Linked DNA regions of Homo sapiens. The protein of the gene in region 1 interacts with the protein of each later gene in a biochemical or structural test. Each region holds a gene or a part of one and is shown in the gene's direction. Other genes may lie near its edges.

Region 1 (3,925 bases):
TCCTCATTATAAAAAAGGGTTTGTTGTGGCTTCTGTTGTCTTATTTCCAGAATCCAAAGACTGTCCTTGCCACCTGCACAGTCCCTGTGATATTTGATACCTAGTCACCATTAACCAGTCCAATACAAAGAGTAACAGCTATTTAAATCAAGATAGGCAGGTAGCCATTTAATACAGTACACTTATAGAAAGATTGTACCCCTTAATTAAAAAATGTCTGAAGTATTAACATGTCCTGAATTTATCCAAATTTCTACCTATGTCAAGTCCGTTTCTCAAATGCATATGTATAAATGTAGCATTTTTACTCCCCATGTTCACTATTTTATGCCTTTCTTTTTTTTTTTTTTTGTACTTTATGTTGTATCTTTTAGCCTAACCTTTAAATATTGGATTCCTAAGGTCCCTTTTATCATTCTGTATTCTCCCTTAAGAAGGTTTTTATCCTCTCTCATTCACTGGGTTATCTATTTGGTGTCACCCCCAGGTAATATCTAGCTCACACTTTCTTCCTGAGTTCAATACCTCAAAGTATGTTTGTATACATGACTTACCTCATGTGGGTGCTTCATAGGTACTGGAAACTCACATTTGAAATAGAAGTTATCTTCCTCTCCTCTAAAATGTCTTTTAACACTGCTTCTGACTTCCCTGACCTCAGTATATAACATTGCCATTCATCTGCCTGGTCCCTCAAGTGAAAAAACACAAAAACCATCGTATGCTCTTCCTTTCCCTTTGTTCCCCTCCCCTCACATATTATAAGCCCCTAGTTCCTGCTATTATTAATGTCATTAAGTTCTCCTAAATTCAGCCATGACCCTTCCCTTCTGTCTCTTAGCTCAAGGCTTCTTCCGGAACCTCATAGCTGATTGTCTTCTTTTGGGCATTGCTTTTCTCAAGTCATTTTGTACACTGCAACTAGAGTGAACTTTTTATAAAAGGCAGCCTGATCATCTGTCCTACTTGAAAGCCCCAGTAGCTTCCCATTTGCTCTTGGGATGAAGTCCTAGTGAAGGGTTATATGCTCATCTTTAGTTCCTCTAAACAGCTTCCCTGACCCTCTGCATCTTCTCTGATAGATTTGGTGTGCCTTTTTATAAGCTCCTTTGTGCTTCATTACGTACTGGCATAGTTGGTTAAAAGCTTTGGTTCTGAAGCCAGACAGCTAGGTTTAAATCCTGACTGCTATTTACTAATTTTATTAATTTGGGCTTCTTATTTAAATCCCTGTCTGACTCATTGGCTCCTTCTGAGAATAATAACAATACCTACATTATAGGGTTGTTGCAGTGATTAACTGAGTTATCACATGTAAATCATATAGAACATAGGTGCTGAGATAAGCTGATAAGATTATTAGAAATCCTGCTTGTTGGCCATGGCTCACACCTGTAATCCTAGCACTTGGTGGGGCCAAGGCAGGCAGATTGCCTGAACTCAGGAGTTCAAGACCAGTCTGGGCAACATGGCGAACCCGTTTCTACTAAAAATACAAGAAAAAAATTAGCTAGGCATGATGGCACATGCCTGTAGTTCCAGCTACTCGGAGGCTGAGGCATGATAATCGCTTGAACCTTGGTGGTGGGAGGTTGCAGTGAGCCAAGATTGTGCTACTGCACTCCACCCTGGGGGACAGAGGGAGACATTTTCTCTCAAAAAAAAAAAAAAAAAAAAAAAAAAAAGGAAAAGAAATCCTGACTGTTGCATGGGACAAAGACTACACCCTTCTCGTTTCTGCTTCTGACTTGGAAAAATTATGGGATTTGAGTTAAGAGAACTTCAGTTCTGGTATCAGTTCAACCATGCACTATTTTTTGTTAACTTAGATAAGCATTACACGTCAGGGTCCTCACCTTCCTCATTCATCAAAAGTGATCTTTGGGCTCTCTTCCAATTCCTGTTTCTCTGATTCTAATAATAGTTTATCCTTAAGCACTTAATGGGTGAAGTAGGCTTACCATAAGGTAGAAAAGATTATCATGATAGTTCAGCTGGGATCTAAAAGTCACTAAAAGTGCAGTTAGCATTAGCGTGGCCTAAAAGTTGTTGAGCTTATGAACTTACCATGAGCCTTCATAACAACCCTCTGCTACTGCCTGGTTGTATTTTAAATAACTATTTTACCCTCATAGGTGAGGACTTTTGTAGAAGAGGCTTACATAGAGATTAGAAAGTGCAGATTGGGGCCCAGTGACTTGAACTTTCTATACTGACCTAAATACTAGTGACATCATTCTCTAAGCCCTTTAAAGCCCTTTCATGATTGCCAGTTCTGTTGGGAAACAACTAGACAAAAAGCAGATTGTAAGTCAAGAAGTAAAGAGTTGTATTTTATACCAGGATGGGAGATGTTGAGTCAGTTGCTGAGTGATTGCCATATTAACCTTATGGAAAGGTATACTTCTACTCACCTGAAATTTTGGGAGGAAGATGTGTTACATATAATTTATTATAATCAGTATACTCTGATAATAACTTTTTATTGCTTGCTTAGTTTTTTCTTCAATTATCCTTTACTATGATTGCCTTGAATTCTTTATAGATTTGTTCCGCCTTGTCCCTTATATAAACTTACTTTATTTTTATTCTTCTCAGTTTCTTTACACTTAACCCTTAATAATAATATGTAATTAGCTAATGTTTCTTGGCCGTACCATGTATTATTCTAAACACCTCATATGTTTTACCCCCATTTAATCCTCTCAATAACCCTAACTTTTGGGGCTCAGAGAGGGTATTAGCACAGAGTCACTCAGCTAATAAGCTAATCTGATTGCAAACAGAATATTCTTAACAACTGTGTGCTATATTATATCTGATCTCATACTTTTATAGTTTTGTACCAAAGTAGTCACTTTACTGCTTATCCCTTCCTGCTTATTTTTAGGTTAAATTGATGGGAGGAAATGGGGACCTTCTTTCTAATAAATACGTAAGCTTTTAAGTGAAAGGGGCACCTTTGTGTGTAAATCACAATGGAACCAAAATTATTAAATGTCTCTTTAATGGTATTCATTGCTTTTTAAAAAAACATAAGTCATGTAAAGCTGTTAAAATACTGATCATTCTGTGTTTTTAATTTAAGAAATAGGCTGGTGATTTGAACAAATCAAGTATAAATTCTTTTTGAGACAACCAGGGAAAATTGAAGACAGGTTAGGTATTAGATGAGATGAAGGAATTATTACTGATGTAGTTAGGTGTGATAATGGTATGTGGTTATTTTTATTTAAATACTGATGTGTTTACTGGGAGAAATAATGTATTTGTTTTAATAATACTCTGGTTGGGAAGGGTGGGATGCAAGGGTACTAGGGAATAGATGAAACAAGAATGGCAACATATTGGTAATTTTTGAAACTGGATGGTAGGGGCATAAGGGCACATTATAGTAGTCTACTTGTGTATATGTTTGAACAGTTTTATAATAACGAGTTTTTTTCAACAGTTGGAAAAATAACTGTTAGGAACTTTTTAATTTTTCTAAAAAGTGAGAAAGAAATAGGGGGTTGCTAGGAAAAGATAGATTTAAAAGGTTTTATCCAACCTACAAAAAAAGTGGTACAGTCATCTGTTTTCCTGGCTGCTTACTACTAGTATAGAGGAATAAGTCCATATTAAAAACAAATAATAGCTTTATTGTTTTATTTTTATTCAGTATATTGGCATTTATAAAATTTAATGTGAAAATTCACATTAAGGTTTTCTCTGATTTATTACCATGGAATTTCTGTCTTCTGATAATAAAAGTGTCATTGAGCTATATATAGTCTTAGCAGAGAAGATCATTAATAATTGTAGGGTTTGTCCTAATTCCATATTATTGCAAAAATTATCACCAAAATAAAAAACATCTCTTCAGCTATTCAATTGGTCTTTCATCTTAATTGTTTTTGACTTGAAATCCTAGGCTTTTGACCTT
Region 2 (3,925 bases), on another chromosome or scaffold:
TCATTAGTAAACAGCATTAAAAGATTTTCTGAATTTATATGTAAAAAAGAGGGGATAACTTACCTAGCTCTTTTTTTTAACTCATTAACCTCTGCTTTTATGTCTTCTGTATATTATTTTTATCTATTTTAAGAGACAGGGTCTCACTCTGTCACCTAGCTGGAATACAGGCTGGACACAGTGGCTATAATGTCATTAGTAAACAGCATTAAAAGAGTTTCTGAATTTATATGTAAAAAAGAGGGGATAACTTACCTAGCTCTTTTTTTTAATCATTAACCTCTGCTTTTATGTCTTCTGTATATTATTTTTATCTATTTTAAGAGACAGGGTGTCACTCTATCACCTAGCTGGAGTGTGGGTTGGACACAGTGGCTCACACCTACAATCCCACCACATTGGGAGGCCAAGGCAGGAGGAATGTGAGACCAGCCTGGGCAACATAGTGAGACACCATCTCTACAAAAAAAAATTTATTTTTTCTTTTGAGGTGGACTCTTGCTCTGTCACCCAGGCTGGAGTGCAGTGGCATGATCTTGGCTCACGGCGACCTCTGCCTCCCAAGTTCAAGCGATTCTCCTCCTCAGCCTCCTGAGTAGCTGAGATTACTTGCCACCACGCCTGGCTAATTTTTGTATTTTTGGTAGAGATGGGGTTTCAGCATGTTGGTCAGGCTGGTCTCAAACTCCTGACCTCAAGCGATCTGCCCACCTTGGGCTCCCAAAGTGCTAGGATTACGGGCATGAGCTACCACACCTAGCCAAAAAAAATTTTTTTAATAGCCAGGTTTGTTTCCACATGCCTTGTAGGTAGTCTCAGCTACTCAGGAGGCTGAGGTGGAAAAATCATTTGAGCCCAAGAGTTTGAGGCAGCAGTGAGCCATGATCATGCCACTGCACTCCAGCCTGAGCAACAGAGTGAGACCCTGTCTCAAAAATGAAAAATAAATAAGCTGGAGTGCACTGGCATGATGATAGCTCACTGCAGCCTCCAACTCCTGGACTCAAGCAATCTTTCCACTTCACTCTCCCAAATAGCTAGGATTACAGGTGTGAGCCACTGGGACTGGCCAAGTTAATTTATTATTGCAGAAAAATAAATTGATAAATTTAGTGTAGCCTAAGCATATACTGTGTTTATAAGTCTATAGTAGTGTATAGTAATGTCCTATGATAAGTACCCTATAAAGTTTACCATTTTTTATCTTTTATACAGTGTTTTCACTGTACCTTTTCTATGTTTAGATATATTTAGAATAGACAGATAGCATTGTGTTACAGTTGCTTCCAGTACTGAGTACAGTCATATGCTGTACAGGTTTGTAGCTTAGGAGTAAACAGGCTCTACTTTGTAGCCTAGGTATGTAGTTAGCTATACTGACTAGGTTTGTGTAAGCACATTCTATGATGTTAGCACAACAATGAAATTGGCTATAACAATGCATTTCTCAGAATGCTTCCTGTTGTTAAGCAATTCATGACTGTGCTCTACAGTTTCCCAGGAGAATGACCAGAAAGCTCCACATCTACCTCTTGCCATATATGATTTCAAAGCCATGCCAATGGGGAGTTAGCAGGTCGACCAGTTTTGTTCATGTGTGTGTGTGCACATGTGTCAGTGCACACATGTTTTCTGCATGTAATTGGATTGTTTTCACAAAATTGCTTTCTTTGTGATTCATGGGGAATCCTGAATCTAGGAGGGAAATTTAACAAGCAATACCTCTGAGAGCTGTAAGGAGTGATAACCCCTTAGATTGTGCACATGTACCCTAAAACTTAAAGTAAAATTAAAAAAAAAATTTTTTTCCATAAAAAAACAAAAAGAACCTTCCTTTACCTTGTTCAGTGTTGGTCAGCCCTCTCAACTGTCTTAGACAAATGTTACACACTTTTTGGTGTAATAAAACCAGAGTTTCCTAGAGTAAGGTGAGAAGGTACAGTGTGTTCAAATCACCTGGATAAAAAGTTATAAAATATTAGAATTTTTATAATTTATTTTGTAATTTCTTTGAACTTGTTTCTGCTTTTTACTTTTACCTTTGGAAAGAACTTGTATTTTGATCTGATTGAAAGTATTATATCACTCTCATAATGTTTTCTTCTGTATTGAGTTACGTAGGATCGATGCCGCTGGCACATTTTATTTTCTGGTTTTTGGTTCTTTTTTAAGCCTTGCCCTTGCTTCTTAAGTTTCTGGTGAAACTTCATTTTTAAAAGATTGCCTTTTTCATTTTTCCTAGAGTTCTGTAGATTTTTGCTAATGACCTTACAATCTAGAAGAAAAGTTACCTTTTTACTTTTGTTTCTTCTACTTGACTGTAGTCATTAAACACTGAAATATTGTGTTTTTATTAATCCTATTGGAGAACATAACAACATTCAGGATTTTTATTGTTGACAAACTGCTAACTAAAATTTTTTTCCCAAAAATTTTATGAAATCATTTATTTTTATCTGAATGAACTACAGCTTATTTGTGGCTTGTGTTCTTTTATTTTTTCTTTCTTCCAAGCTGCTAAGTTTGTGTTATGCATGTGTTCTTTTAATGAACAATTGATGACAGAATTTTATTTTAAAACTTAAGTTAGAAGCCTTTAGTATTAATTGAAAAATTCGAAAACCAAGTTGTTTTTAAAGTACGTTATTTCATATTGTTATAGGGATATTTCACTTGATGTTTGTCTTTGGAAAATTATTATTATTTTTTTTTGTCTAAACTTTAGTCAAGATTTTATAAGATAGCCAACTAAAAACTGAATTCAAGACCAAATTTTTTTAAGTACCTTAAAGTTTTTTGGTGCTCATTTAGTAAAAGATCTTAATCTTCTCATACTTTCTTACAGTGGCAAGCTTAGCTGCCTCAATTGAATACCATCTGCAGAGGGTACTAATTCCTCTAGGCCAGCCACTAGATGATTTTATGAACAGGTCAATATTTACTCATTGTAGTAATGGTACATAGCAGGTGTGCATACTTCGTTGATCTTTTTTTAATAATAAAATTTTTTGGGGGAGATAGGGTCTCACTCTGTCACCCTGGCTATAGTACAGTGCTGCAATCATAGTTCACAGCAGCCTTGGACTCCTGGGCTCAAGCAGTCCTCCTGCCTCAGACTCCCTAGTAGCTAGGAATACAGGCTCGTGCCACCACGCCTAGCTAAGTTTTTTGCAATTTTTTTTCTAGAGGGGTCTCGCTATGTTGCCCAGGCTTGTCTCAAACTCCTGGCCTCAAGCAATCCTCTTGTCTCAGCCTCCCAAAGGGCTAGGATTACAGGCATGAGCCACTGTACCCAGCCTAAATTAGTCTTGTAATTATATATTAAGTTAAATGCTACTAGTAGGATGATTCAAGAGATTAGACACTATTTTCTCATTCTAATTAGATGCTTTGCTTTTCTATAGCTCCTACAAGTCAAATTGTAGGCGTTTGTACATATAAGTACAAAATAAAGATATTTCTACATAAAAAGATTATTTACTCTATTAATGGAAATTATATTGACAGTCTTACACAATAGTGTTTATATTTTAGTTCTTCAGTAAATATTTGATTGGAGTCTAAACTTTTAGAAAGGCCTTAATTAGCCCTTGTGTCCTGTTAAGCATTGCCTTCCTGATAGATGAAATCCCGGCTTAGGTACATAATCTCTTTTAGAAGTCTTCAGACATCTAAAACATCAGTTAACTCCTTTAGTCTACAAACTTTTCCATTTACATTCCATGTTAGGATAAAGAAGCAAATCATAAGAGGAAAAAAATTTTTCTGAGTATGTTTCTCAGATATTACAGAAGTGGTCAAAGACTAGATTTCAGTGCTCTGTCATTTACTGACTATGTGGCCTTGACCAAGTCATTTAAACATTTTGGTTCATAGTTTTCATGTCTCTAAAGTGATTTTTTGTGGATAAAATTTGAGTAGTAGG

Evidence for each region.
Region 2: the proteins of TLK1 (region 1) and NEK1 form a complex in vitro, tested with the Homo sapiens proteins (one study listed by BioGRID).

The regions. Positions count from the first base shown.
Region 1 is NC_000002.12:171,007,052-171,010,976, reverse strand, and holds part of TLK1 (serine/threonine-protein kinase tousled-like 1), read left to right. Parts: intron 1-3,913; coding exon 3,914-3,925. UniProt on the Homo sapiens protein: Rapidly and transiently inhibited by phosphorylation following the generation of DNA double-stranded breaks during S-phase. This is cell cycle checkpoint and ATM-pathway dependent and appears to regulate processes involved in chromatin assembly.
Region 2 is NC_000004.12:169,402,659-169,406,583, reverse strand, and holds part of NEK1 (serine/threonine-protein kinase Nek1), read left to right. Parts: intron 1-3,925. UniProt on the Homo sapiens protein: Phosphorylates serines and threonines, but also appears to possess tyrosine kinase activity. Involved in DNA damage checkpoint control and for proper DNA damage repair.